Linked DNA regions of Homo sapiens. The protein of the gene in region 1 binds, or shares a complex with, the protein of each later gene. Each region holds a gene or a part of one and is shown on either strand. Other genes may lie near its edges.

Region 1 (14,395 bases):
TTTTTTTTTGAGACGAAGTCTCGCTCTGTCGCCCAGGCTGGAGTGCAGTGGTGCAATCTCAGCTCACTGCAAGTCCCACCTCCCAGGTTCATGCCATTCTCCGGCCTCAGCCTCCCGAGCAGTAGGGACTATAGGCACCCGCCACCACGCCCAGCTAATTTTTTGTATTTTTAGTACAGACAGGGTTACACCGTGTTAGCCAGGGTGGTCTCGAATTCCTGACCTCAAGTGATTACCCATCTCGGCCTCCCAAAGTGCTGGGATTACAGGCATGAGCCACCATGCCCGGCCAACTTTTATTTTTAAAAAGTGGCCAGGTGCAATAGCTCATGCCTATAATCCTAGCACTTTGGGAGGCCGAGGTGGGTGGATCACTTGAGGTCAGGAGTCCAAGACCAGCCTGGCCAACATGGCCTGTCTCTACTAAAAATACAAAAATTAGCCAAGCATGGTGGCGCATGCCTGTAATCCCAGTTACTTGGGAGACTGAGGCAGGAGAATCGCTTGAACCTAAGAGGCAGAGGTTGCAGTAAGCCGAGATCGCGCCGCTGCACTCCAGCCTGAGTGACAGAGCAAGACTCAGACTCAAAAAAAAAAAAAAAAAAAAAAAAAAGCCATGTGGGTCCTCCCACCCCAACTCTTCGTTCCCCAGGAGGAGATGCTTTGCCCCTACAGTGCAGCCCAACATCCAGCCAGAGAGTCTTACCTTCCAAGCAAATAGCCTCGCCCATCTACCTGCCTCCCATCCTCGCAGCCCGTCCCCACCTCCGGCCTGCCAACATGTGTCAAGCCAATGGGGCCTACAGCCGGGAGCAGTTCAAGCCTCAAGCCACCAGTAAGTGAGGGTCTCAGCTAGGGCCTTTCTCCATCTCCCTGGGGGAGGACAAGGGAGAGGGACGCAAGCAGCCCACAGGGCAGGTGGGAAGGTAGCTAATCAAATCCCCATGCACTTTGTACCAATGCTCTTGAGCCTCAGCACATGTTGGCTTAGGGGTATTCAGGGCGCAGAGGAAACCAGTCAGATGGTCCTTTTTTTTTTATTTTTCCAGAACTCAGGATTAACTGAAATCTACCACTTCCTGATGATAGGGGCTATCAGGGCTCAATGCCACAGCCTAACCTCTCCCTGCAGCCCCTATACATAAGTTGCCACTACAGGCATCGCCGAGGCCCCAGGTTCCTGAGCTTTCTTAGCCTTGCTCTGCTAAGTTTTGACAAAACTTTTTTTTTTTTTTTTTTTTTAAAGACAGAGCCTTACTCTGTGCCCAGGTTGGAGTGCAGTGGTGCTATCTCGGCTCACTGTAACCTCCGCCTCCCGGGTTCAAGCAATTCTCATGTGTCAGCCTCCTGAGTAGCTGGGATTACAAGTGTCCACCACCATGTCCAGTTAATTTTTTTAGTAGAGATGGGGATTCACCATGTTGGCCAGGCTGGTCTTGAACTCCTGGCCTCAAGTGATCCGCCCACCCTGGCCTCCCAAAGTGTTGGGATTACAGGCACAAACGACCGCTCCCGGCCTTTTTTTTTTTTTTTTTTTGAGACAGTGTCGCTCTCATTCTGTCACCCATTCTGTAATACAGTGGCATGATCATAGCTCACTGCAGCCAGAACTCCTGAGCTCAAGCAATCCTCCTGCCTCAGTCTCCAGAATAGCTGGGACCACAGGTGTTCCCCACACCCAGCTTTTTTTGAGACGGAGTCTCGCGCTGTCACCCAGGCTGGAGTACAGTGGCACGATCTCGGCTCACTGCAACCTCCACCTCCTGGGTTCAGGCAATTCTCATGCCTCAGCCTCCCAAGTAGCTAGGATTACAGGCACCATCACCATGCCCTGCCCAGCTAATTTTTTTTTTTTTTGAGACTGAGTCTTGCTCTGTCGCCCAGGCTGGAGTGCAGTGGCACCATCTCGGCTCACTGCAAGCTCCACCTCCCAGGTTCACGCCATTCTCCTGCCTCAGCCTCCCGAGTAGCTGGGACTACAGGCACCTGCCATCACGCCGGGCTAATTTTTTTGTATTTTTAGTAGAGGTGGGGTCTCACCGTGTTAGCCAGGATGGTCTTGATCTCCTGACCTCGTGATCCGCCCACCTCGGCCTCCCAAAGTGCTGGGATTACAGGCATGAGCTACCGCGCCCGGCCCATGCCCAGCTAATTTTTTGTATTTTTAGTAGAGATGGGGTTTCACCATGTTGGCTGGGCTGGTCTCGAACTCCTGACCTCATGATTTGCCTGCCTCAGCCTCCCAAAGTGCTAGGATTACAGGTGTGAGCCACCGTGCCTGGACTTTTTTTTTTTTTTTTTTTTTAGAGATAGGATATCGGTCAGGCGTGATGGCTCATGCCTGTAATTCCAGCACTTTGGGAGGCCGAGGCTGGCAGATCGTTTGAGCTCATGTGTTTGAGACCAGCCTGGGCAACATGGCAAAACTCCATCTCTACTAAAAAAAAAAAAATACAAAAATTAGCTGGGCACGATGACGTCCACCTGTAGTCCCAGCTACTCGGGAGGCTGAGGTGGGAGGATGACTTGAGCCCGAGAGGTTGCAGTGAGCCGAAATTGTATCACTGCACTCCAGTCTGGGCGACAGAGTCAGACCTTGTCTCAAAAAAAAAAAAAAAAAAGAAGAAAAAAAGAGATGGGGGTCTCACTACATCCATTAGGCTGGTCTTGAACTCCTGGTCCTAAGCAATCCTCCCACCTCAGCCTCCCAAAGTGTTGGAATTACAGACCATACCCAAACTCTTTTCTTGGTTCTTTCCACCTCTTCCTGCCTCTCTTGACAGTACAGTATTGCTCAGGAGAACCCAGGGTAGCAGCAGGTGTACGGAAGCCCTGTCTGCATGACCAGGCACCCTGCAGCAAGCACGTGCACTTGGGAACACAGACCATGAATAAGGGCACCCTTTACAGCCTAACTAGGCCATTTCTTTTTGGCCCTACAGGGGATTTGGAGAAGGAGAAACAAAGACTCCAAAATATCTTTGCCACAGGGAAGGACATGGAGGAACGGAAAAGAAAGGCCCCTCCTGCACGACAGAAGGCTCCAGCCCCTGAGCTAGACCGATTTGAAGAGCGTAAGACTCCGACGGACCAGTCATGCTGGGGGTGGGGGTAATGTGAGGAGGGGGCCCAGAATTGGATGGAGCAGTCAGGGGATCCCTGAGGGCCAAGGGCCAACAAGTGAGAAACACTATTTATTTATTTATTTATTTATTTTGAGACAGTCTTGCTCTTATTGCCCAGGCTAGAGTGCAGTGGCGTGATCTGGGCTCACTGCAGCCTCCACTTCCCAGGTTCAAGCAATCCCTCCTGCCTCAGCCACCTGAGTAGCTGGGATTACCAGCGCCCGCCACCATGCCTGGCTAATTTTTGTATTTTTAGTAGACACGGGGTTTCACCATGTTGGTCAGGCTGGTCTCGAACTCCTGACCTCGTGATCCACCTGCCTTGGCCTCCCAAAGTGCTGGGATTATAGGCGTGAGCCACCGCGCCCGGCCTAGAAACACTATTTGACAATAGAACCACTTCCTCTCCTCAAGAGAGGCAACCCGCTGCCTGCATCCCTCATGGGAACCTGACAGCCCTCTCCTCTGTCCAGTGGTGAAGGAAATCCAGGAGAGGAAAGAATTCCTGGCTGACATGGAGGCCCTGGGACAGGGCAAACAGTACCGAGGAATCATCCTTGCTGAAATCTCCCAGGTAGGAGAAACAACCAGGAAAGTGGGGAGGGGAAGGGCCCAGCGCCAAGTGCGAATGGAAATACAGGGTCTGCTGTGGCAGGGTTCAGGGGTCAGGCTCTAGCTCACTGCTGTGACAGCTCCTCAGGTTCCTAGCCCTGATACACCTGCTTTCCCTGATGCCCTTTGCAGAAACTCCGGGAAATGGAAGACATTGACCACAGAAGGAGTGAGGAACTTAGGAAGGGTCTTGCCACCACTTAATCTGTCTCCAGAGACGGGCAGGGTAGCCCAAGCTCGACCACTGGAGTCCACTCCTCTGCCAGGCAGGGCCATCCTCAGGCCAGCCCATCCTACCAGCCTTCTGCCACGTCAGGTGGTGGCATAGCACTGCCCTGCAGTACCCCAAGGCATACTCAGCAGCCTAGCCCCTGCCCCGGAATGCAGATGGAGCCTCTGAGACTCACAGCCCCGTCCGCAGAGAAGCAAAGCCCGAGCATCCCTACTAGGACATGTGTCTAAAGGTATCCACTGGGCCTGCTTCCCACCACTTCTGACCTGTGGCCTGTTCATTTAGTTTTCTGAATTCAGGAATGAATATGATTCCTTTCTTCCTGTTTTAGGATTTACTTATTTGATTTCTTACCGCCTTAGGCAAGTATTCAACCACAATGATTAACTGGCCAATAAAACATATTTAACGTGGGTCATTACAAGCACCATTTTGTTTTCAGAGGGATAAGCTTATTTGTTCAAGGCATTAGACTTTGTCAAGCCCAGATGGTTTCTAGCTACCTGTTTGCATATTTCAAGTGGCAACGGGAACCAACCTCTTGGGCACCCCATGGCTGGCTGCTGTGGCGGGTGCTGAATTCCACTCTGTTAATGATCTCAATAAACCTCTGCAACGGTTCATTATCCCTCTGTGAAAACTAAGTCTCAACAAGATACCACAACCAAGGGCATTTACCTGGCAAGCAGTGCATTCAGGATTAAAAGTTGGCTTTAGCTTTATGTCTTTCCACTATACCCATGGCCACAGAAAGAAACATGAAAAGGTGGGAGCGACCTAGAGCCCTGGCCTGGGAGTTCCAATCCCTGCATGTGCCGCGTGACCTTTCTTGGGCAAAACCCACCAGCTCCGTGCTTGTGCATCTGCGAGGCCCTGCTGGGAAGGAGTCACCTGACACCTTGTCCTGTACACAGCACATCTGTCCCCCTCCCCTCTGGCTCCTGACACCCACGATCCCTGCCTTCTCCGGTATTCTGTCATTTGCTTGTCCCACTAAATCACCAAAATATTTTGGAAATATCAACCTTGTCTCGGGCACCTGGAGGGAGTCCCATAATCCCATCAGGTCACATGACCCAAGTTTCGGTTTGCAGAATAAAACGGCCCTGTAAATGGTGAGGCCCCAATCAAGGGCCGGCTCAGGGACATCCCATGGAAAGCCTCTGTGTCCACACACCCTCAAGAACCTGAGGGCAGAGGGTGCAATCTAATGGGAACAGTTGTCCTCGACCTCGAAGGCCCCATCATGTGGTCAGGAGGCAGCAAACCAGAGAACCCCCCAGGACAAATCCAGTCCACCCTGGACACACAGTATCAGCCAACCCTTGATTGAAATTCAGGCTAGTGGCCGGGCGTGGTGGCTCACGCCTGTAATCCCAGCACTTTGGGAGGCCAAGGTGGGTGGATCACAAGGTCAGGAGATCGAGACCATCCTGGTTAACACGGTGAAACCCCGTCTCTACTAAAAATACAAAAAATTAGCCAGGCGTCGTAGCATGCGCCTGTAGTCCCAGCTGCTCAGGAGGCCGAGGCAGGAGGATGGCGTGAACCCAGGAGGCGGAGCTTGCAGTGAGCTGAGATCGCGCCACTGCACTCCAGCCTGGGCGACAGAGCGAGACTCTGTCTCAAAAAAAAAAAAAAAAAATTCAGGCTAGCTTTCAGCATTTACAAATTACACACACATAAAATCTGGATTTCTAGCTTCTTATGACAAAGGATCTGGCAACACCGGGCCCACATTCAGCCCCACAGGCCACAGGTGACTTGACTTGCCTCCAGTTCACCCCTGCCCCTGCCAGCTTTGTCTCCTGACACCGAAACAGCCCGTCAGAGCTGTCACTCGGGTTCATGCGTGTTACCTGTCTGGCCCTGGAAAGGCCCTGGAGTTGGTGGCGCCAGCTCCAGGTCAACAGGCATGTTTAGAAGGAGCCTGCCAGGGGCTGCATGGCCGAGGAGCCACCTCTCCCTGCAGAGGAAAGGGATCCTGCCCAGTGGCAGGCGGTGAGGGCAGAGATCCCTCTTGGAGGATGGCCCCAACATGGCCTCTGGGCGACCAGAGATGTTCAGCCACCAGGTGTGGCAGAGGCAGGTGGGAAGGCAAACAAGGCTGCCGCTGTGGCCCGAGGCTGCAGGGCACTGGCAGTTGAGGTTGTCTGTTTATTGGTGAGGAAACTCCTCGAGAGTTAATACAGTGTAATCTTTTCCCAGAGGTGTGTAGAGGGAAGGGGGCCTAGAGGCATCCCAGAGATAGCTTATAGCAACAGTGCTTTGACCAAGAGCTGCTGGGCACATTTCCTGCAGAAAAGGTGGCGGTCCCCATCACTCCTCCTCTCCCATAGCCATCCCAGAGGGGTGAGTAGCCATCAGGCCTTCGGTGGGAGGGAGTCAGGGAAAGAACAGACAACAGAGCAGACAGACCAGTGATGACCATGGGCGGGAGCGAGCCTCTTCCCTGGACCGGGGTGGCAGAGGAAAGCCTAAGTGAGGGGTCAGACTATAAACGTTAAGGAACCGAGATGAGCACCTGCTTCAAGTGCACCCTTCCTACCTGACAACCAGGGACCAGAACTGCAGCCTGGGGACAGCACTGGGAGCAGCTAACAGAGCACTCACCTGCCCCAGCATGGCCGTCGCAGCCCTGGTCCTGGCAAGGGAGGCTCCCTGTGGAGTAAGGGGAGACGAGGGAAGCCGCTCCTGGAACTGTGAGGGAGAGAGGGATGGATTTGCCCGTCAGGCCCATTCACGTCTGACAGTACAGGCCACTCAGTCATAAACTCAAACTTAACTGAAGACTTCAGAAACAGAGTTCCTGAGTGAGGGAAACTGAGATCCAAGGGCGCCTGCACAGGACAGGAAGACAGAGACTCAGAGCCAGGGATGGGGCAGGAAGAAGCCAGTGTGGCCCAGCGCCACTTGCTGGCCTGCCTGGAAGAGCAGAACCCTGGAGGCGGAGACCCAGCCCAGAGCTCATGGCAGGGGCTGGGCAGGGTGAGGGGCGGAAGTGCTCAGCAGGCGCCCCTCCCTGGACCCTGGGACCCTATTTGCCCCTTGGGTCCGTCACAGCATCCGCAGTCATCAGAATCAGGTTGGGCAGGGCTGAATCACCGCTGCCTGGGGCTCGGAGAAGAAACAAGAGATTCTTTGGCCCAGAGCAGTCAGAGGTCCCTGAGGAGGAAGAGGCCATCACCCAGAGGATCCCTCCCCTTAGTCATCTTCCTCCTGACTGATCTGAGGGGAGCAGGGCGCCCCCTTCAAACAGAGCACAGCCCAGGAGCTGCTCCAGGAGGGGGCAGTCCCCAACTGGCTTCTCGTGCTGTTAGCTCTTGTCTCTGGGGGACTTGCTCTTGGCATCACGTTTGTTTCCTAGCAGTTTCAACATCTTCATGGTCTTGAACTTCCCCTTCTTCTTGCCCTCAGGTTCAGCCTCCCTCTGGAACTCTGCAGCACAGAGAGGGGAGCACTTAATAAAGTGGAGAAGAGGGGTACATCCAGGGCAGGCTAGACCCAGTGACACAGGCCTGGGCATGGGCAGCAGGGCTCAGCCCAGCCCCACCACTTCCTGTGTGGAGCCTGGGAGGGACAAGACACTCACCTTTCCCAGCCTCTGTCTCTTCACCTAGAGGATGGGGCCCATCCTCCCCCTCCCCACCTCCAGTGTTTGGGGAAAGATCAAGATGGTCAGCACATGTAAGAGCTCTGCTGAATCCGGGAATTCTTTTTTTTTTTGAGACTGAGTCGCTTTGTCGCCCAGGCTGGAGTGCAATGACGCGATCTTGGCCCACTGCAACCTCCGCCTCCCGGGTTCAGGCGATTCTCCTGCCTCAGCCTCCCGAGTAGCTGGGACTACAGGCAGGTGCCACCACGCCCCGGCTAATTTTTGTATTTTTAGTAGAGATGGGGTTTCACTGTTAGCCAGAATGCTCTCGATCTCCTGACCTCGTGATCCCCCCCGCCTCAGCCTCCCAAACTGCTAGGATTACAGGCATGAGCCACCACACTCGGCCTAGAATCCAGGAATTCTGAAGCATGGCATCCATTTATCTTTTTCTTTTTCTTTTTTTTGAGACAGAGTCTCTGTCGCCCAGGCTGGAGTGCAATGGTGCGGTCTCAGCTCACTGCAAACTCTGCCTCCTGGTTCAAGAAATTCTCCTGCCTTAGCCTCCCAAGTAGCTGAGATTACAGAAGTGTGCCACCACACCCAGCTAATTTTTGTATTTTTAGTAGAGACGGGGTTACACCATGTTGGGCCAGGCTGATCTCAAACTTCTGACCTCAGGCGATGAGCCCGCCTCAGCCTCCTAAAGTGCTGGGATTACAGGCGTGAGCCACCGTGCCTGGCCCCACTTATCTTTTTTTTTTTTTTTTTTTTTTTTGAGACGGAGACTTGTGCTGTCGCCCAGGCTGGAATGCAGTGGCACGATCTCGGCTCACTGCAACCTCTGCCACCTGGGTTCAGGCGATTCTTCTGCCTCAGCCTCCCGAGTAGCTGGGATTACACGCAAGCGCTGCCATGCGCGGCTAATTTTTGTATTTTTAGTAGAGACAGGGTTTCACCATGCTGGCCAGGCTGGTCTCGAACACCTGACCTCGTGATCTGCCGGCCTCGGCCTCCCAAAGTGCTGGCATTACAGGCGTGAGCCACCGCGCCTGGCCCCCATTTATCTTTAAAAGGCTGGATTCACCCAGGCTGGTGCCCACAGCTCTGTTACTTACAACACAAACGCTGTCAGAGCAAGAGAAACCTTCAAAATCATCTGTCTGAGCCCCTAATTTTATAGACAAGGAAAATGTAGGCCTTTGAAATTGACTAATACCAACTGAGCCCTTTGTAGGGCCAGGGCCCTCAGCTAAGTTTTACACATTATCTCAGTAATCCCAGCACACACCTGTGAGGGGGTGCCATTTTCACCCGCATTCTGCAGATATGAAGAATGAGACCAGAGTGGTAGAGTGGCCAGCTCAAAGTCACCCAGCTCATAAGTGCCAGAGCTGGGACTAGAACTCAAGTAGTCTGACTTGGCCTGAGTCAAGACCTAACCACAAGGCCACAAAGTGAGGTACTGGTAAAACCAAGACCAAAACCCAAATCCTGGCCAGGAACACTGGCTCACGCCTGTAATCCCAGCATTTTGGGAGGCCGAGGTGGGCAGATCGCTTGAGGCCAGGAGTTCGAGACCAGCCTGGTCAACATGATGAAACCCCGTTTCTACTAAAAATACAAAAAAATTAGCCAGGGCCGGGCGCAGTGGCTCACACCTATAATCCCAGCACTTTGGGAGGCCGAGGCGAGCGGATCACTTGAGGTCAGGAGTTCAAGACTAGCCTGGCCAACATGGCGAAACCCCATCTCTACTAAAAGTACAAAAATTAGCCGGGTGTGGTGGCAGCTAATCCCAGCTACTGAGGAAGCTGAAGCAGAATTGCTTGAACTTGGGAGGCGGAGGTTGAGTGAGCTGAGATCGTACCACTGCACTCCAGCCTGGGTGACAAAAGCAAGACTCTGTCTCAAAAAAAAAAAAAAAAAAATTAGCTGGGTGTGATGGCATGCGCCTGTAGTCCCAGCAACTCAGGAGGCTGAGACAGGAGAATTGCTTGAACCTAGGAGGCAGAGATTGCAGTAAGCCAAAATCACACCACTGCACTCCAGCCTAAACAACAGAGTGGGACTCTGTCTCAAAAAAAAAAAAAAGAAAAGAAAAAAAATCCTTTGACTTACAGTCCAGTACTTTTTTTTTTTTTTTTTTTGAGACTGAGTCTCGCTCTGTCACCCAGGCTGGAGTGCACTGGCGTGATCTCGGCTCACTGCAAGCTCCACCTCCCGGGTTCACACCATTCTCCTGCCCCAGCCTCCCGAGTAGCTGGGACTACAAGCTCTCGCCACCACGCCTGACTAATTTCTTGTATTTTTAGTAGAGACGGGGTTTCACCGTGTTAGCCCTGATGGTCTTGATCTCCTGTCCAGTACTCTTTTAACTGTTTCAAGCACCACTTGGTCCCCAGGAAGCACTGCTATTTGGGCCCACGGACTCCAACAAAACCAGCTGCAGATCTCAAGGGGGAATGCACAGCTGAGGGCAAATCCACCCTGGGAAGATGCCTCCCATATACCACAGTCGTCTCTGTAGGCATCAGGGCATCCCACGGCTACCCTCCAAGCCTAAGCCACAGCCTTCCTGGCTGTATGCTGGCCTCTCTTGCTACACACAGCCCTCTCTGCACAACAGAGGCTGCGGAGTTTGTGCACAGCCATCCTGGTAGTGCCCACTCCAACCCTCCCTTCAACCAGTCCCTCCCTTCCAACCCCAATGCCGAAGTTCAAGTGCTCACCAGCCTCATCCCCAGCAAGGGCCTCACCTTTCTTCTTGATCATGGCTTCCAACATCTTGTCTTCCTCTTCCTCCCTGAAATAAGCAGCAGCAGTTAAGCTGGGCGTGGTGGCTCACACCTGTAATCCCAGCACTTTGGGAGGCCAAGGTGGGTGGATCACCTGAAGTCAGGAGTTCGAGATCAGCCTAGCCAACATGGTGAAACCCCATCTCTACTAAAAATACAAAAAGTAGCTGGGTGTGGTGGCTCATGCCTGTAATCCCAGCTACTCGGGAGGCAGAGGTAGGAGAATCGCTTGAACCTGGGAGACAGAGGTTGTAGTGAGCCGAGGTTATGCCATTGCACTCCAGCCTGGGCAACAAGAGTGAAACGCTGTCTCAAAAAAAAAAAAAAAAAAAAAAGCAGCGGCAGCTGAGAGTCCTACGGGAGGAAGGAGCAGATGCCCTCTCTGTCCACACAGGGCTGAGCAACGGTGCACTGGGATCGCTGGTAGGAGGGCAGGGCTGGCCTGGCCTGAGGCGTGGACTGTGTCTTTGGCTCTCCAGGGAGCTGCCCCACCCATGAGGCCCAGAGCCTGACCTGCTCTGGCCCTGCCCCCAGGACCCCCCACCCCTGGCCATGTCACCTCTGCCGGTCCTCATCCAGGCAGTTGATGATAGCGTTGCGCTGCTCAATGAGGGTCACAAGCTCCTGCATCAGCACCTTCTCCCGGGCCCGGTCCTCCTCCGTCCAGTCCTTTTCTGCCCAGGGAGAAAAGTTAGGGGGCATGAGTGGTAGGAAAGCCCTCTTCCTCCCCAGGCCACCAGGAGCCACTGCCTAAGTGCGGCAGGCCAGCCCCATGCTAAATACCATGCAAGAAACTAAGCGCAGAAAGGAAGGGCCCCGATAGGTGGGGCTTACAAGTTCTTTTTTTTTTGTTTTTTTTTTTGAGACGGAGTCTCACTCTGTCGCCCAGGCTGGAGTGCAGTGGCGTGATCTTGGCTCACTGCAGGCTCCGCCTCCCGGGTTCACGCCATTCTCCTGCCTCAGCCTCCCGAGTAGCTGGGACTACAGGCACCTGCCACCACGCTCAGCTAATTTTTTATATTTTTAGTAGAGACAGGGTTTCACCATGTTGGCCAGGATGGTCTCGATCTCCTGACCTCGTGATCCACCCGTCTCAGCCTCCCAAAGTGCTGGGATTACAGGCGTGAGCCACCGCGCCCGGCCAGGGCCTACAAGTTCTTAGGGAAAAGAAAGTTGTGACAGAAGAGACCAAGGACACCAGGCTGCCTACCAAAGAGCCCTGCAAGGGGCCCCAGCAGGGCCAGCACAGCACCTACTGCAAGAACAGGGCAGCACCAAGGGTCTCATGCTCATGTTCATTCATCCATTCAACAAATGTTCACTAGGTGGCTTCTGGCGGGAGGCAAGATTCAGGAGGGACAGAGTGGGGCAGGGGCGAGGAGACAACAGGGAACCCCAGGGCTCCTCCAGCAGGAGAAGCAACACAACCCAAGTGACATACTGGGACATTTATCCAAGGCTGTGGAGGAAGGTAGACTAGAGGGGATGCTGGGGGCAGGGAGCCCAGCAGGAGGCTCCCCTGAAGCTGGGCACACCTGCTGCCCCTCCTGCCTCCTTTCCTCTCAAGGCCCCAGCCAACCCACAGGACCACCCCCAGGGGCCCACTGGGGCCCTAGTATTTCCCCCTCCCCCAGCCTGCAGGCTCCAGGGATGAGTGCCCACACTTGGCCTTCCCTCCACAACATCTACCGCCACAGGCTTCCCTGGCTTCAAATAAATATCCTAGGCCGGGCCCGGTGGCTCACTCCTGTAATCCCAGCACTTTGGGAGGCCGAGGCAGGTGGATCACCAGAGGTCAGGAGTTCGAGACCAGCCTGGCCAAATGGTGAAACCTCGTCTCTACTAAAAATACAAAAATTAGCGGGGTGTGGTGGCACACACCTGAAATCCCAGCTACTAGGGAGGCTGAGGCAGGAGAATTGCTTGAACCTGGGAGGTGGAGGTTGCAGTGAGCTCAGATCACGCCACTGCACTCCAGCCTGGGCAACAGAGTGAGACTCTGTCTCAAAAAAAAAAAAAAAAAAGTAAATATCCTTAGCCAAGCGTGGTGGTGGGCGCCTGTAATCCCAGCTACTGGGGAGGCTGAGGCAGGAAAATCGCTTGAACCTGGGAGGCGGAGGTTGCAGTGAGCTGAGTTCACGCCATTGCACTTCAGCCTGGATGTCACAGTGACACTCCATCTCAAAAAAATAATAGGCCGGGTGCGGTGGCTCACGCCTGTAATCCCAGCACTTTGGGAGGCCGAGGTGGGCGGATCACGAGGTCAGGAGATCAAGACCATCCTGGCTAACACGATGAAACCTTGTCTCTACTAAAAATACAAAAATTAGCCGGGTGTGGTGGCGGGCGCCTGTAGTCCCAGCTACACGGGAGGCTGAGGCAGGAGAATGGCGTAAACCCAGGAGGCGGAGCGTGCAGTAAGCCAAGATCGTGCCACTGCACTCCAGCCTAGGCGACAGAGCGAGACTCTGACTCAAAAAAATAAAATAAAATAAAATAATAATAATAACAAATAGGGCCAGGGCTTGGCGCGGTGGCTCACGCCTGTAATCCTAGCACTTTGGGAGGCGGAGGCGGGTGGATCACGAGGTCAGGAGATCGAGACCATCCTGGCTAACATGGTGAAACCCCGTCTCTACTAAAAATACAAACAATTAGCCGGGCGGGGTGGCAGGTGCCTGTAGTCCCAGCTACTAGGGAGGCTGAGGCAGGAGAATGGTGTCAACCTGGGGAGGCGGAGCTTGCAGTGAGCCGAGATTGTGCCACTGCCCTCCAGCCTGGGCAACAGAGTGAGACTCCATCTCAAAAAATAAAATAAAAATAAATAAATAAATAAAATAAAATAAATAAATAAATAGAGCCAGGCGCAGTGGCTCATGCCTGTAATCCCAGCACTTTGGGAGGCTAAGGTGGGTGGATCACAAGGTCAGGAGATCGAGACCATCCTGGCTAACATGGTGAAACCTGGTCTCTACTAAAAACACAAAAAATTAGCCGGGCGTGGTGGCAGGCGCCTGTAGTCCCAGTTACTTGGGAGGCTCAGGCAGGAAAATGGCGTGAACCCGGGAGGCAGAGCTTGCAGTGAGCCGAGATCGCGCCACTGCACTCCAGCCTGGGCGACAGAGTGAGACTCTGTCTCAAAAAAAAAATAATAATAATAAATAAATAAATACCCCCCCCCAAAATAAATAAATAAATATCCTGAAGCCCCCTCAGCCACTGCCCCTTTCCCCTATGGCCTCACCTTGCCAAAATTGAGGAGCAGGTGGCCCAACCTGGTTCTGGGGACAGAGCAGGGCCTCCAAATCACCACCCAAGTTTGAATCCCACTTTGCCATTTTCCATATCTGGGGCCTGGGTAAGTTATGTCCCCAGTCTACACGTGGGGAAACTGAGACTCAGGGACATGAAATCTTTGACCAGTGTCACACAGTGAAGGTGGAGCTGGTATTTGAACCTGGCAGCCTGATGCCCCCAAGCAATGGCCCTCATGGTGTACTGTACTCGGAGCCTCATACACCAGCTTCACCTTCCAAAAGCAACATCCGGGACAGGCTGACAAGCCCGGGACGCACAGCCACCACACGGGGGCTGGAAAAGCCACAGTAAGCCCTGGGGCCGGGCTAGCCAGGGAGGCAGAGGAGCCGTGCCCGCTCTGGCCACAGGGCGCCGCTGTGGCTCTGAGTGGTGGCCACGCCCCAGCCTCCTGCAGAGTTGGGAGTGACTCACACAAGGCAGTGGAAGCCTGGGACATTCTGTGGCTTCCCCTGGGACACTCCAGCCTCCCAAATTCCCCAGTCAGTAGACAGTTCCCCTGCCACCATCCCCACAGTCTGGAGGGGCTGTGTGTGCAGGGACAGCCCCAGATCAGAGACATGGATGGAAGCCCAGCCCCGTCACCAACAGCCAAGTCCCTTGACCTCTCTGGCCCTCCACTTCCCATCTGTCAAGATGGCCCTTGCCCAGGGCTGGCACCATGCCTGAGCCATAAGAAAGTGGTCAAAAGCTTTGGCTCCCAACTCTGGAATCTCCA
Region 2 (15,558 bases), on another chromosome or scaffold:
TCAGGTGATCTGCCCGCCTCGGCCTCCCAAAGTGCTGGGATTACAGGCATGAGCCACCATACCCGGCCTGCAATAATATTTGCTCCCTTTTCTCTCTCTCTCTCTGTCTGGCACCCACATACACACATACACACACACATATTTTCTGAACCACGGGAGAGTAAGTTACATAAGTCCTAGCCCTTTACCCTTAAATATTTCAACATGTATCTCCTAAGAAAAATGACATTTCTTACGCAACCACAAGACAAGTACCAAATTCAGGCCTGATGACAGTGATGCAATGCTATTATCTAACGTACAGTCCACTTTCAAATGTCTCTGATTGTCCCAGTCTGCCAGGACCACGCTTCACATCTGGTGTCAGCTCTCCTCAGTCTTCTTTAATCCAGAACCATCCTCAGCCTTTCTTTGTTTTTCAAGACCTTGATATTTTTGAAGAGTCTAGATCAGTTGTTTTGTAGAGTGTTTCTCATCTTTTTCTCTCCATTTCCCCCCAATTAAACAAGTCAAGTACATCCATTATATACATTTGGACAACATAGAAAAGTAAATAAAAATTGCCCCAGTTCCTACGATGCAGGGATAACCCCGTAGACACTTCCTGTAATCACTGAGTAAGCTGACTCACTTGTTCTACGCACTCTGTGCACATGAACTCATGTCATCCTAGGAGGCGGGTGCTTTTGTTATCTCTTGAGTGCCTTGCTAAAGATCATATGGTCTGTAGGATTTGATCCTGAACAGTCTGCTCCAAAGCCCATGCACTTGGCCTTTATGCTATACTGCTTCTCAATAATGGCCAGCCACGTGCGTGTGGCGTGCGCGCGCTCATCAGGATGCCTCAGCTTCTGCCCTATTGGCATTTCGGGCAGGGTAATTCTCTGCTGTGGGAGTGCCCTGTGTGTTGTAGGATGGTCAGCAGCAGCCTTGTCCTCTGCCTAGTAGATGCCAGCAACAATCCCCAAAATAATCATACCAAGAATGTCCCCGGGGGAGCAAAATCACACCCAGCTGAGAATCACTGTGTGGGGTGTGTGTGTGTATGTGTGTGTGTGTAGCCAGGTGATGCTGTATTCCCTTCTGAAATCTATCCCAGTGATTGGTACTCCATGGTCACTTTTGGGTCCTTCCATTTTCTTCTCTGGTCCCATGTCTAGTGGCTGCCAGGTGTTGCCTGTGAAGGGACTCGTGGATCGACAAAAAGACAAATCTATTGCAGTAGCTACCTTCTACTGCTACACAACAAAGTGCCACAAACTTTGTGGTTTAGAACCGCCCCCATTTATGAGCTCCTGGTTCTGTAGGTTGGAAGTCTGGGCCCAGCATGACTGAGTTCTGTTCTCAGAGTGTCAGATGCTGAAGGAAGGTGGCAGCCAGGCTGCCCTATCACCGGGAGGCAGGGGAAGGAATCTGTCTCCAAGCTCATTCTTGTTGGCAGAATCCGGTTCCTTGCATCCATAGGACTGAGGTCCCCGTTTCCTTGCTGGTGGTCTGCTGGGGCCCCTCTCAGCTCCTAGAGGTCACCCACATTCCTTTCCACATGGTGTCCCCCAGGCTGGAGTGCAGTAGCACAATCATGGCTCGAAGCAGCCTCAACCTCCCTGGCTCAGGTGATCCTCCCACCTCAGCCTCCTGAGTAGCCGGGACTACAGGTGCATGCCACCACACCCAGCTAATATTTTGTATTTTGGGTAGAGATGGGATTTTGCCATGTTACCCAGGCTAGTCTTGAACTCCTGGGCTCAAGTGACCCACCCCCTCAGTCTCCTAAAGTGCTGGGATCACAGGTGTAAGCCACTGTCCAGCCAGCTCTGCTTTCAGAGGGCTCAGTGAGCTGGGGGGCCCACTGGGATTATCTCCCTTTGTACAGTGGACTGCACCATCTAACACCGCATGTCATGGAGTAAGTCACCAGATCCGCATTCCCAGCATTACACTGGATATGTACACCAGGGGTGGGGGATCTTGCAGACATCCTGAAATTCTGCTTAATGATGACCAAAGGGCAAGAGAGGTGTTTCTGGGACAGGACATGGAGCCAAGGGGCAGGGGACCAGGTTGGGTGAGCAGGAGACGGAGGCCTGACCCCACCTCTGAGAGGGTCCCACTATATTCCTGCCCTCGGGGACACCCCAACATGTACCTCTAGGAGCAAGCATGGTGCCTGGGCAGACGTGGGCCTCAGGGGAGGGTTCTGGTCTCCAGTCTCCTTGCAGATGGAGCGTCACCATGTTCTGTACTTAAGGGCACAGTAAAGAAGCTGCAGGTGAGAGGAATGTGGCAGCTGGGCCACAGGACGGGGAGGGAGACTGAGTGTCGGCAGACAGGCGGGCTGGGGGACCACCATGTACCACCCCAAGTGACCTACAAAGAGACTTTAATTTGGGGGGATGGAGGAGGGAGGTGTTCGCCCAGCAGAGGGGACAGGAGGGTGGCCTTGGGCACGATGTTTGACTCCTGAGGTGTGGGAGTGAGGAGCTGGGCTTGTTGAAGATGGGCTGGGCTCTGTGCCCTGGTGGCTGAGTGTGACACAGAGTTGGGGACAGAATTACCCTCCAGCCCCCCAGCCTGTGAGCCCATGGTGAGGCTCAGGGCCACAGCAGGGCAAGGCCAAGGCAAGGGAGAGGCAGCTGGAGCAGAACTTGGGCAGGCTCGTTCTTGCACACACGAGACACACTTCAGAGCCCCCGGAAATGCAGAGGGGCCGTGTGCACGGCAGCAGTCTGCACTCATACAAGGGAGGCTAAGACCATGCACCTCACTTGTACTCTCAGGCTGCTGAGGCTGGGGGACAATGGGGTTACACTCTCCATTTCATTAGTGTAGGGCAAGGGGGACCCCAGCACCCCACAAGGGACCCCCTAATGTTGTCACCACAGAAGGCGATTGCTTATGTGCCAAATAATAAGCCATTTCCTGTGGAGTCAGGCAAAGGCCTGGGCCCTCCAATAAGTTTAGGGCAAACCCTGCACCCTGCACTCAGCGGCAGCCCCAGCCTCATCAGCCCCAGCAAGGCAGGGCCAGAAGCTGCAGGGACTGAGACACACACACAGAAAACTGGCAGGTGAACTAGAGCTTTTACTGAAAGTGCTCAGAGACCTATAAGTCTCAGCTCTGCAAAGCACTGTGCAGTTATATGTGTACATCATCCTGATAAATGTGTAAGCCTGTCCCCCAGGCTGCAGAGCAGCAAAGGGGCTAGGAAGGGCTGGTGAGCTTCAGGGCAGAGATTCACTTCAGCCTGCATCTGGGGAAGAGGCTCTTGAAACCCTCTTTCTCTGCTTTTCCACCTGCCCGTCCTTGCAACTTCAAGTGGCTGGAGTGTGGAAAGGGCAGTGTTAAGATTCAGAAGGCCCTGGCCAGGCGTGGTGGCTCACACTTGTAATTCCAGCACTCTGGGAGGCCGAGGCAGGCAGATCACAAGGTCAGGAGATCAAGACCATCCTGGCTAACATGGTGAAACCCCATCTCTACTAAAAATAGAAAAAATTAGCCGACGGGCATGGTGGTACACGCCTGTAGTCCCAGCTACTCGGGAGGCTGAGGCAGGAGAATCACTTGAACCCGGGAGGTGGAGGTTGCAGTGAGCCAAGATCACGCCACTGCACTCCAGCCTGGGCAACAGAGGGAGACTCCCTCTCAAAAAAAAAAGACTCCGAAGGCCCAGATTCTCATTCAGTCTGGGCTACTTCGAGCAGTCACTGGACATCCCGGGCCTCAGGCTCTTTCTCACTGGAATTTGAAAGCAGCTAAGATTCTGACACGGTCACCTCCAAATTGGGCCATGTTCTGGCTGCCAGATGCCTTCAGAGCCCTCTGGGGCCCAGCAATCTCCCCAGAGCCATCACCCAAGGGCCACAGCTGCTGCAAGAGAAAGGCCTCATGGTGTGGAGAGGACACTCTTCTTGCCAGTGTGGGAGACCCGGCATTCAAAAGAACAGTCCTCCTCAGTTCCTCACCTTGTGTCGGGAAAACTGATTTGTTGCCCAAATCTCATGACTGTGAGAACAAAAATCTGTGCTGATATGCAAACTCTGTCAGTGGAAAGAATGAACCACTCCTCATCCCAGGGAGAAACCTATGTTTTGGTTTTTCTCAGCTCGATTTTTCTGCCATATTTGGAGAAAAACTCCTTAAAAAAAAAATATCGACTGGGTGCGGTGGCTCATGCCTGTAATCCCAGCATTTTGGGAGGCTGAGGTGGGTGTATTACTTGAGGTCAGGGGTTCGAGACCAGCCTGACCAACATGTATTTTTAGTAGTCTCTACTAAAAATACAAAAAATTAGCCAGGCATGGTGGCAGGCGCCTGTAATCCCACCTACTTGGGAGGCTAAGGCAGGATAATCACTTGAACCCAGGAGGTGGAGGTTGCAGTGAGCTGAGATCGCACCATTGCACTCCAGCTTGGGTGACACAGAGTGAGACTCTGTCTCAAAAAAAAAAAAACACTCTCAAACATAGTTTATTATATAGGTGAATCCTGGTCCCTGTGATGGGCTTATTGGTACGATTTCTGGTAGCAAGCATAGGTACCAGGGCCTCCAACGTTTTTGGATTTGCAGCAACGGGGGTCAGCTACTGACAGGGTCCAGTCATGCTGGATGAGGATGCCTCTGGTCCTTTTGGAAGCCTCATCCATTTATTTCCGGTAATAGGCCACTAAGGCTTTGGAGATGGACTGATGTTGATAGCATAAATCTGGGTCACATGACCACCACCCTTCACACAAACATGCGTGTGCATGTCAGCAAATTGCTCCTTGCCCAGAGGCAGAACTAGGAACTAGTTCCAGCAGCTTGAATTGCAGCGCTCGGCTCCATCATCTCCAGGGGCCATCCATTCACCTTGATGAGGCCACTGCCATGTTTGCAGTGGATTGCACGGACTGCAGCTGGCCCTTGGATGGCATAGCCAAGAGCACAGATAAGAGCTCCTCACTGCACGGCACCGCAAGCGGAAAAGGCACCTCTCTTTTTTTTTTTTTTTTTGAGATGGAGTCTCCTTCTGTTGCCCAGGTTAGAATGCAGTGGTGCGATCTTGGCTCACTGCAACCTCCACCTCACGGGTTCAAGCGATTCTCCTGCCTCAGCCTCCTCAGTAGCTGGGATTACAGGCACACGCCACCATACCTGGCTAATTTTTGTATTTTTAGTAGAGACGGGGTTTTGTGATATTGGCCAGGGTGGTCTTGATCTCAGGTGATCTGCTTGCATCGGCCTCCCAAAGTGCTGGGATTACAGACATGAGCTACTGCACCTGGCCTTTTTTTTTTAAGTTGTCTCTAGGGACCTTGTAGATGTTTTCCTAGATCAGGCCATGACAGGACCAAGCAGACCACTTAGAGGGGAGGTGAGGCCCCTTTCTGCTGGATGAGGGCGTTTCTGAGGAGAGCTAGGGGGTACCTCAAGGCCCTGGGTTTGCAGGGAATGGATTTATTAACTGAAGAATAAAACACTGGGAGTGGGGGATGGCACAGTTTCTGAGATAAAAGAAAAATACTTGAACCCTCCATCAATCTGCCATGGGCTCAGGCAGACAGGCAGAAAGTGAAACAGCGGAGAAACCAAAAGTGAAAGGGTGCATTCACATTTTATACAACTTTCCCACCAAACAAACTGCCCTACTCAGAAAACACAAAAGAAAAAAAAATTAGGACATTTTCGGTGTGGGGCATGACAAGATAAGGAAGCTGCCTGGAAGCTGGGTGCCAACTCCATGAAATTGGGGGAAACTAATTGCTGGTCACGTGGGCCTCACCAGGGTGACAGAGATCCCTTCTTTCAGTCCTTTAAGATCTTTGGAGAAAGTCAAGTGGCCATACATAACGACAGGGTCTGGGTTTTGTTTATAAATAACCCAGGAACATTTTGTTGTTTTCAGTTTTCTAGGGCTGGGTTTTCCCAGCACACAGGGCTCTGGGGAGATTTGAAAACCATGGCGCGTCAATGAGAATGCTGCCGGGGCGCCAGTTTGGAGCAGCCTCATTGAGACGACTGAACAACTACTTCATTCAGGATCCTCAGCCCTGGGCCCTTCCCTAGATCAACCCAGAAACTGCATCTCCGGGGTGGATCCCTAACAGTGCTGAGTAGGAGGCAAACACTGTGGCTTCTAAGGCTGACCCGGGAAGTCTGGACTAGGCCCGCCGGAGGCTCCTCGTCACCAATTGGCATGCAGCCTCTGGTGACAGCTCTGCCTAGGAGCCTCAGTATCTTCTTTTGAGAATAACACCAAAAAAAAAAAAAAAAAAAAAAAAGGGGGGGGGCAGTAGCTTGTGTGCTTTACTATGATGAAAAGAATCAAATCAAAGCACTAAGGGGCGTAAGATTGCAGGCAGGGTTGGAATTACTTATCCGCTCTCCAATGGTTAGGGAGCAAGAGGGGAGGGCAAGGGAACTATCTATTCCCTCGGAAGGGATCTTACAAGCGGTAGGCGAACAAACCTCCCATCGTGTCCTCTCTAGATTCCACCACTCAGTTCCCCTGAGATATCCCCCGTTCTCAGATTTGAGTTCCTGCCTCTTCCTCTTAGCCTACCAGCCCAAGTTATCCCCTGATACAGGCCCCTAGCCCTCCAGGCTTCCACATCTCCCAGAAGCGAGGAAGTTGGACCTGAGGCTTTCAAAGTCGCAGGTTCAATTCAGATCTCTTTAAGAGCCCCCAGGGTCCTGCTACCACAGGTTGGTGTCTTGATACTGGTTACATAACAATCAGTCCCCAAAGCTCTGACATCACCCACTGAAGATTCTCACCAGCCTGGACAGCCAAAGGGGTCTGTGTGTGGCCGGGGAGGATGGCGGGGGAGTGAGCCCCATGGAACAGCCAGGAACTGGTAAGGGGAGGTAGGGCACAGATCCCAGTAAATGATGGTAAATGGTGGTGACCCCGAGAGGAAAGTGGAAGTATTTGGGTTTTTAAACTTCCCCCTAAATTCCCACAAGATTTCATTGTTGCCCCCACACTTCCCCTCTTCCCCACATAGGGAATTTCCGATTTCACTTCCCAATACGCAAGTGGCCAGAGAGCCTCAACTTCCTCCTCATGCCCTCCCTGCCTTGCCCCAGCTATAGCCTTTGTGGGGAAGCCTTCTCTTCTCCCGCGCGAGTCCGGTGTCACCCATGTCCTCCCTCGCTTGCGTCCCTCTCCCATTCCCACCCCGTCGGCCTGAGGGGAGGTCAGGCCTCTCGCTGCCCATTTTTCTTTCCCCAGTCACCAGCCCGCCCCGGATTCTCTACTCCCTCAGCTTGCTCTGCTACCACTTTCCTGTCTCTCCCTCTCCCAAAGCAGATAAAAGATGAGGGGACAAAGACAGTGTGTGTCTGGGAAGCTGGGCTGAGAGGAGGAGGTGCCGCCGCCTGGGGGTACTCCGATGCTTCCGGGGATTCCGAGCCAGCTGGAGGACCGCACGTGGCGAACGGCGGGCGCGGCGCGTAGTCAGGGAACCAGGGTGCCTGACTGGGTGTCTCGTGGAGCCATCCCGCGGGGGTGTGGGGGGGCCACGGTGCCGGAAGGCGCGCGGCCCAGAGGCCGTCTCCGCCGAACGCCCGCTCCTCGCCTTCCTAACCGCAGCACTTTCGCGAGCCTCCCTACGAGGGGCGGGGCGAAACAGGTGCGGTTGCCACGGCACCCGGACCACAGCCTCGCGAGATTTGGAATCAGCCAATGGGGGCGGGGTAGGGGAAGACGTGGCACCAGTCGGAGGGGCGGGGCTGGGAGGGGCTCCTCCCTACCGCCCCCAATTCCGCCCTGCCCCCGCCGCGGCGGCGCTAGCCGCCACTGAGGGACCGACCCTATAAAGGCCGCTCCGCGAGGGGTGCGCAGCATTCGGCAGAGGGCGCTTCGACGGGCTGGGCTGTGCGCCTGCGCAGTGTGGGTCGCTCCCGATTCCCTGCCCCGGCCGGCCCCGCCTCGGCTCCGCACCCTCGCCCCGCTCTCAGCCGCCGCTCTGCCCCGCAGCAGCCAGCCCCGTGTCCGGCAGTATGTTCAGCTGGGTCAGCAAGGATGCCCGCCGCAAGAAGGAGCCGGAGCTCTTCCAGACGGTGGCTGAGGGGCTGCGGCAGCTGTACGCGCAGAAGCTGCTACCCCTGGAGGAGCACTACCGCTTCCACGAGTTCCACTCGCCCGCGCTGGAGGACGCTGACTTCGACAACAAGCCTATGGTGCTCCTCGTGGGGCAGTACAGCACGGGCAAGACCACCTTCATCCGACACCTGATCGAGCAGGACTTCCCGGGGATGCGCATCGGGCCCGAGCCCACCACCGACTCCTTCATCGCCGTCATGCACGGCCCCACTGAGGGCGTGGTGCCGGGCAACGCGCTCGTGGTGGACCCGCGGCGCCCCTTCCGCAAGCTCAACGCGTTTGGCAACGCTTTCCTCAACAGGTACCCACCCATCACTCCAGGGGGCGGGGGGCGCGTCCGGGGCACACCCCTCACTCGGAGCCTGACCCTCCCGTGGCTGTCGCCCCGCCGTCCTTTGTCTCCGAGGCCCCAGTGAGACCCTCAGTGACCACTCCCTGGTCCAAGGGCCCTGCCCCTTCCCAGAGTAAACCCACTGGGGGTCTAAGAGTGGGCGTTGTCGGCTCCCCCAGCTTCTGTCCTCCCCAGAATCTTCCAGGGTAACCACCAAGCCCTCCTGCAGATCCCAGCCCCACTCCCCTCAGCAGCAGGGCCGCAGTAGGAAGCTGAGCCATTCCTGCGCTCCTTTTCTTGGTCTCCACCTCCGTCCCGCAGGCTGGATGCACCTAATTCACGGAAATCAACCCTCCCCTCCCTGTCTTCTTAAGTGTCAATAGCAAAACACAATGAAACTTTTAGCCATTCCCTTCTCTGGTGCGGTGTGGGTCTGCTCTGCCTCCCCTGGGACGGTGGTTTTGTGTAGGAGGGAGGAGGAGGATCGGCTGTGGCTTGCTGACTTTGGGGCAGCCCCTTGGAGGCAGGGGACAGTTGAGGTTCGAACACTTCTCCCAATGGCAGCTCTCAAGAGGTCAGTGCTGCCCTGAGGGGTTTCAGGAAGCAGGATGAGGTGGTGGCAGTGGGAGCCCTGCAATGAGATTCTGGCCCTAAGCCCTTCTGTGCACTGAGGGACAGAATCTGAGGTTCCTTCACCCACTTGGACCTCACTTTTCCAGTTAAGTGGCCTCTGCACGCGAGGAGAGTGAGCTCCAGGACTCTGCCTGTCTCAGTGCTGTGAATGAAACACAGTGCTCCCGCCCCTCAAGGAGTGCAATGCCCAAGCTCACTTTTCTCCAGAGAAACTCGAGACATGCCCGTCCCAACCCCCAGGCGACATACCAAAGTACTTCACAGACCCTGTCCTCCCTGCCACCCCACGTTCACGGACTCCACATGCCTTTCATAATTCTGCACCAGCGAAGAGCCTCTGAAGGAATCTTTGAATCCTGCCTTCCAGGTCCCCGCCCTGCACGGTCACATTCCTTTCCAGACGCCATCCAGCTGTGCAGGGCAGCTTGCCCTAGAGCCAAGCTGGTGGCCAGGCCTACTCCAGGCACAGAGCTGACCTTCAGCAGGGTCTGTTCACTTCCAGGCATTTCAGCCCGCCCTCCTGTTTTACGGCTGTTGATGTTTGTCTGTCAAGGCCAGGTTGAGTGCAGCCCTTTGGGCTAAGGGTCCTGAAGAGGCGGAGTCCTCTTCACTTTCCTTGTGAGGGCACACCTTTTTTGAAAGGAGAGACATGGCACAGGACCAGTTTTCTGAATTTGGAAGCCTAGAGTTTCAGAGCTGGAAGGATCTTAGACATCATCTTGGCAGCCCCCACCTGACTGGTTCAGGAAACCGAGGTTCAGAGGGTCTGGCTGATGTGTGGAAGTCACCCATTAGGTCAGCCAGCACTGACTGCCTGGCTTTTGCACAGCCAGTTACTGCTTTCTGCTGCTTCTACCCGAAAAAGAGCAATTCGAGATTGCTTTGTCCGAGACCGGTGCTTTGATGACATTGGTGCCACAGGATCTGAGAGGTGGCACACGTTTATTTCCTTCTTGCTGCCACCTCATCTCCAGAGGATCCCTGATCACTGATGGCCCTGCCGAAAGGGCCCTATCAGCCCACGCTGAGGCCCAGAGCTGTGCCAGGATGTGTAGTGTGGGGAGTGAGCCCGGCGAGGAGGGTGCAACAAAGGAGGCTTTTCTCTGGCTGATACAGCCTCTCCCAGCTGAGTCTTGAAGAGACTCATTGAGTCGTGAACTTGACTTGCCGGCCTTCTCCCCCTATGTGGCTGCTCTAAGAATAAAATCAGCTGGAGCAGACCAAGGCAAGGTGCAGTCAGGGTGTCTTAAGAGTGTCTTGCAAAAACTTATTGCATAACTGGGACTGCCACTTGTGCGAGATGAAACCTGTGCGTTCTTGGTGAGATGGAATCGGAGGCATCTTTGCTGCTTCCCCTTTCTTGTTTTCTGCCATATACCCTGGGCTCTGCAGAGCAACTGGTTTCTGGGTCCTATAGATATTAACTCACTTTCTGGGCTCATTTATGAGGCATTTTTATGTATGTGATTTCCCAGAGCCAATTCTGCTTCCCATCCTTCTATTCTGTAATCATCTCTCCAGCGCCTCCTGTCCCCAGCAGGAAGGCCAGGACTGGCCTTCATGCATTGCTACTGGCACTGGCGAGAGTGAGGCCCACGTTTTGCTCGCCCTGCAGGTCAGCTGGTCTTGCTCCACTGCCTTGCAGAGCACCCCTTGCCCTGGCCAGCTGCCCTCTGCCCGTGGGCCCCTGGTCACTGGGGGATGGGGCCAAAGGGAGAAGCTGATCGGCTCAGAGTCCTCCCGTCTGTTGGAAAGGCAGCTTCAAGTCTGTGTCCTACAGATAATGGGTCAGTCTTTTCTTTGCTCTCACTACCTTTTTCAGAGAAGTTTTTTGTTTGTTTTTTTGAGACAGAGTCTCGCTCTGTTGCACAGGCTGGAGTGCAGTGGCGCACAATTTCGGCTCACTGCAAGCTCCACCTCCTGGGTTCGAGCAATTCTCCTGCCTCAGCCTGCCGAGTAGCTGGGACTACAGGCGCGTGCCACCATGCCCAGCTAATTTTTCTATTTTGGGTAGAGATGGAGTTTCACCATGTTGGCCAGGCTGGTCGTGAACTCCTGACCTCAAGTGATCTGCCTGCCTTGGCCTCCCAAAGTACTAGGATTACAGGCGTGAGCCACCACGCCTGGCCTTTCAGAGAACTTTTCAAAGGAGCTTTTTCTGCGTCCAGTGAAGGATCCCTGCTCTCAACTGAGACTGCCCCTTGCCTTTCTGGGCTGTTCTAAGCTTAGTGTGAAACTCAGATATGCGTGGCTGAGCCCTGGCCCGCAAGTCGCCAGCCTCTCCACGGCTTTGTTCTTCCTCAGCCTGCTCGGACTTTCAGAGAATGGCGCGTCTGTGCTTCTCCGTCCCACCGTCTACCAGCCTGTGTGGTCCCCAGCTTTTGCCAGCCGTCCATTTCAATTCCCTCACCCAAGCGGCTGGTTGAAAGGGCAGGGCTGGCCCTAGCAGCAGTAGGAAGCGGCCAGCTCTCTTCAGTGTGGAGATTTAGCCAAGTGCTGGAGGATTCTGAGATGGGATTTCAGCGCCCCAGCGTGACCTTCTGCTTCCCCTCCGAACTGAATGGTGACCTAGGCTTGCACAGTTTTCACTAACAAGTCAGCAGCTTGAAAGTTGACCTCTCAAACTCTAGGGGAAAAGTGTGTGAGGAAGTGCTGATTTGGGTCAGTTTGAGCCTGCTGGTTGCATTCCCAGTTGAGAAAGTCCATACGATTTGCCGGCCACCCCGGGAAACTAAGACGATAGAAAACCACCTGTCAGTTCCCCGCTGCTGGAGAGGAAGCCAGAGATGGAGCGAAGGAGTACAGAGAGCCCTTTGTTGTGTCCGGAGCAGTGATGACTGTGTCTTGACGCCTCTCTTCTGGCTCTTGCTCTCATGTAGGTTCATGTGTGCCCAGCTGCCCAACCCCGTCCTGGACAGCATCAGCATCATCGACACCCCCGGGATCCTGTCTGGAGAGAAGCAGCGGATCAGCAGAGGTAAACAGCTGTGACCACAGCTCGGGCTGCTGGTGTTGTCACACATCCTTCTCTCTAAGATCTGCAACTTGGTTCAGATGCTGCCCTTGAGATTTCTCCTTTTTTTTTTTTTTTTTTTTGACGGAGTCTTACTCTGTCACCCAGGCTGGAGTGCAGTGGCGCGATCTCAGCTCACTGCAACCTCTGCCTCCTGGGTTCAAGCGATTCTCCTGCCTCAGCCTCCTGAGTAGCTGGGACTACGGGCATGTGCCACCACGCCCGGCTAATTTTTGTATTTTTCGTAGAGATGGGGTTTCACTATATTGGCCAGGCTGGTCTCGAACTCCTGACCTCATGATCTGCCCGCCTTGGCCTCCCAAAGTGCTGGGATTACAGGCGTGAGCCGCCACACCTGGCTGCCCTCGAGATTTCTTCCAGTCTCAGCCTTTCTAAAAAAAAAAATGTGGCCGGGCACGGTGGCTCACACTTGTAATCCCAGCACTTTGGGAGGCCGAGGTGGGCGGATCACGAGGTCAGGAGATTGAGACCATCCTGGCTAACACAGTGAAACCCCATCTCTACTAAAAAATAGAAAAAATTAGCTGGGCGTGTTGGTGGGCGCCTGTAGTCCCAGCTACTCGGGAGGCTGAGGCAGGAGAATAGCGTGAACCCAGGAGGTAGAGCTTGCAGTGAGCCGAGATCGCGCCACTGCACTGCAGGCTGGGCGACAGCGAGACTCCGTCTCAGAAAAAAAAAAAAAAGTGTCCGAGTAAGAACCCATTTTACATCAGCCTCCCATCTCCACAGTGCTCTGTGCACTGAGAGGGCGGGAGCTGCTTTCTTTCTTGGCTCCCTGGGCCTAGGCAATGGGAGCAGCCATGGTGAGACCACAGCCAATCTTATGTGGCTGTCATGCTTTTGAACCCCTGGGGCATGCTGGAAACAACAGGATCAGAATCGGGCCATGCTGTGAGGGTGCAGGAAGCATTGCTGACTCTGAACAAGCCCCTGGTCCCCAGAGCTTATTAGCTTTAGTCTGTGTTTAACAGCCTTTGCCCCCCAAAGCCATATACATTCCTCACACGTCCAGCAGGACTGAGAGAGAGCCAAGCAAAAGGAGAAGCTGGTAGAAATTCATGAAACGGGCTGGTGGAAATTTGCTTACATTTGCTTAGAGGTTGACAGCAGCCTCCCTGGCTGAGGCCTTCTTGCTATGCAGTAGTGCACCGTGCCCATTCCAATTGTGTAAACTCCTGCCTAGATTCTGCCAAGCTCTTTTGAAGATCTGGTTCAGGATGAGCCTGAACTGGGTCCTCCATCTGTCACTGCCCCTTTTTCACAGACGGGTGGGGCGCTTTGGGGCCTGATGCTTTCTGGGAGGAGCTTGAGGGTAGGCTGGTACCTGGCAGGTGAGGAGTGGAGTCTACAGCTCCAAATGTGAAAATGAAATAAGATCAAACTCAAAGAGGGGTTGAGGACAAGTGAGCAAGTTTGTTGATGATTAACTTGCAGATCCTTCCCGTGTCCCTTACCCTCTGGACTGGCCTTTGCTGGGTGAGCCTTGCAGTCAAAGCCGGCAGCTAGGATTTGGGGTGCACATGTCTCTCTGCTAGGGCTGTGAGGGCATGGGGACTCTGTTCTTGGAGCTGAGAAACCTTGCTTCTCTTTCCTTCCAGCCTTGCGGGCCTTGCCCGTGTGGGACTGCATCAGAGCGTACTGAAATCACTGGCCCTCATCTGGTTTCAGAGCTGCCAGTTAAGCTGTTAGATTCTCCCACCCCTGGTGACAGTGATGCACCTAGGAGTTAAGGGAGTAGATTTGGAGACCCCTTTAAAAAAAAAAAAAAGCGAGGGCTAGTATTTTTATTTCTTACTGCTATTGTTGTTCCAACCTAGTTTTAGTAAATGCCGGATAAGCAAAAGCCCTGTCATTTGCCAAAGCAAGGTCAGAAAATCTGATTAAGTTACTCTTTTATTTTTTTGAGACAGAGTGTCGCTCTATCGCCCAGGCTGGAGTGCAGTGGCATGATCTCGGTTCACTACAACCTCCTCCTCCCTGGTTCAAGCGATCCTCCCACCTTAGCCTCCTGAGTAGCTGGGATTACAGGTGCATGCCACCACGCCTGGCTAATTTTTATATTTTTAGTAGATATGGGGTTTCGCCATGTTGGCCAGGCTGGTCTTGAACTCCTGACCTCAGGTGATCTGCCCGCTTCGGCCTCTCAAAGCATCATCACAGCCTTGAACTCCTGGGCTCAAGTGATCCTTCCACCTTAGTCTCCCGAGTAGCTGGGCCCACAGGCGCGGGCCATCATGCTCGGCTGGGGTTGTATGTCTTGTGTTGCTTGCCTTGGCCCCTGCCCTCTGAGATGCTCCCTCCCCACCTCCCACTCCCTCTGCTTCCTTTCCCTGGTAGGAAAGAGGCAGGCAGAGGTGTCTACACTGGCTGTCTCTGGGACAAGCACCAAAGTGTATGCTCCATATCAGTGGATCTGCAGACACAGCATGGCGTTTTGATTGGGAGCAAGGGGTGGACGTAGGTGTTGCCTTGTGGTCCCTGCCCTGGAGTTGCCTGTGCAGACAACAGGTTGGAGGAACAAGCCAGCAGGACATGAGGCTGCTGTCAGTGTGCTGCCCTGCTCTGCCTGTGTGGCCTCCCTCTCCCCTCCAGGTGCAAAGTGTGGCCCCTCTGCATCCCTGAGAGGCCAGGCTCCCCTATATCCACAGAAGGTCATCTCTACCCATTATGGGCAGGAAGGAGCCGGTGGCTGAAAGAGAAGCACATCACGCTGATTGGAGGAGGGGTTTCCTGCTGTGAAGTAGCAGAAGATCAAACCGATTTTACTAGACCATTTCTTTTCCTCCATAGCCCTAGAGGCCTTGGTTTAGATGTGTTTTACTAAAAGTTACCTGGTTAGGGTTTGAATGATGGTGTTTTATTGTCAGGAGAAAGACCATCGCTCAGTACCTCTTGGAGGTGCTGGGTGTAAACTCCAGGATGAGCCCCGCTAGGTGTACACAGGAGGAGTGGATTTCTGTTTCCTGGAGGCCCCGCCCGTCAGTCATGGAAAGGCCCGTGTGGCCTGTCCAGCGGAGGAGGTCGGAGTGGAGCAGTGCGTTCCCGGCAGGGCTGGCCACCTGCTACTGCCTTTGCTGGTGGCGTGGAAAGCAGGTGTTTCCCTCTCGGAAAGATGGGGCCGGCAGAGCACGCACCAGGGCCCCAGCACAACACGCCTCCCCTGGCCTGCCAGCCCGTTCCCTGGAAACATGTCCTTGTGGAGGCCGTGGATGGACATTGGGGTTGCTAATTGCATTTACTTCCATTTCCCACCCCGTCTGGCCCCGCCTGGCCCCTCCTGACTTTTTTTCCCCTTTCCCCATGGTCCTAATGTGTGCAGGAAACACGGTCTGAAAAGATAAGGTGGGCTGGTGCAGGCCCAAAGCAGTCAGGATGCAGCCAGGCTCTGTCAGGGACCCCTGAGGACTGCCTCAGGGACGAGAAGGGGGCCGGGTTGGGGTCTCTTGGGCTGCCTTTGCCTGTGTGCTAATCTG

What was found.
Region 2: the proteins of MICALL1 (region 1) and EHD1 are in contact, whole or in part, in an NMR structure (PDB 2KSP), measured with the Homo sapiens proteins. Residues at the interface, in NP_203744.1 of Homo sapiens: Lys422, Tyr424, Asn425, Pro426, Phe427, Glu428, Glu429; in NP_001269373.1 of Homo sapiens: Gly464, Ala467, Lys468, Met471, Asn478, Leu481, Gly482, Trp485, Lys486, Lys492, Asp493, Gly494.

Annotation. Positions count from the first base shown.
Region 1 is NC_000022.11:37,933,721-37,948,115, reverse strand, and holds the end of MICALL1 (MICAL-like protein 1), read right to left. Parts: intron 11,037-14,395; coding exon 10,922-11,036; intron 10,371-10,921; coding exon 10,324-10,370; coding exon of another isoform or gene 10,297-10,323; intron 7,408-10,296; coding exon 7,286-7,407; 3' UTR 5,294-7,285; downstream 1-5,293. Other genes in the region: C22orf23 (UPF0193 protein EVG1), read left to right, coding at 653-835, 2,943-3,074, 3,599-3,801. UniProt on the Homo sapiens protein: Lipid-binding protein with higher affinity for phosphatidic acid, a lipid enriched in recycling endosome membranes. On endosome membranes, acts as a downstream effector of Rab proteins recruiting cytosolic proteins to regulate membrane tubulation.
Region 2 is NC_000011.10:64,870,891-64,886,448, reverse strand, and holds the start of EHD1 (EH domain-containing protein 1), read left to right. Parts: upstream 1-7,827; 5' UTR 7,828-7,961; coding exon of another isoform or gene 7,962-7,984; coding exon 7,985-8,388; intron 8,389-11,930; coding exon 11,931-12,028; intron 12,029-15,558. UniProt on the Homo sapiens protein: ATP- and membrane-binding protein that controls membrane reorganization/tubulation upon ATP hydrolysis. In vitro causes vesiculation of endocytic membranes. Acts in early endocytic membrane fusion and membrane trafficking of recycling endosomes.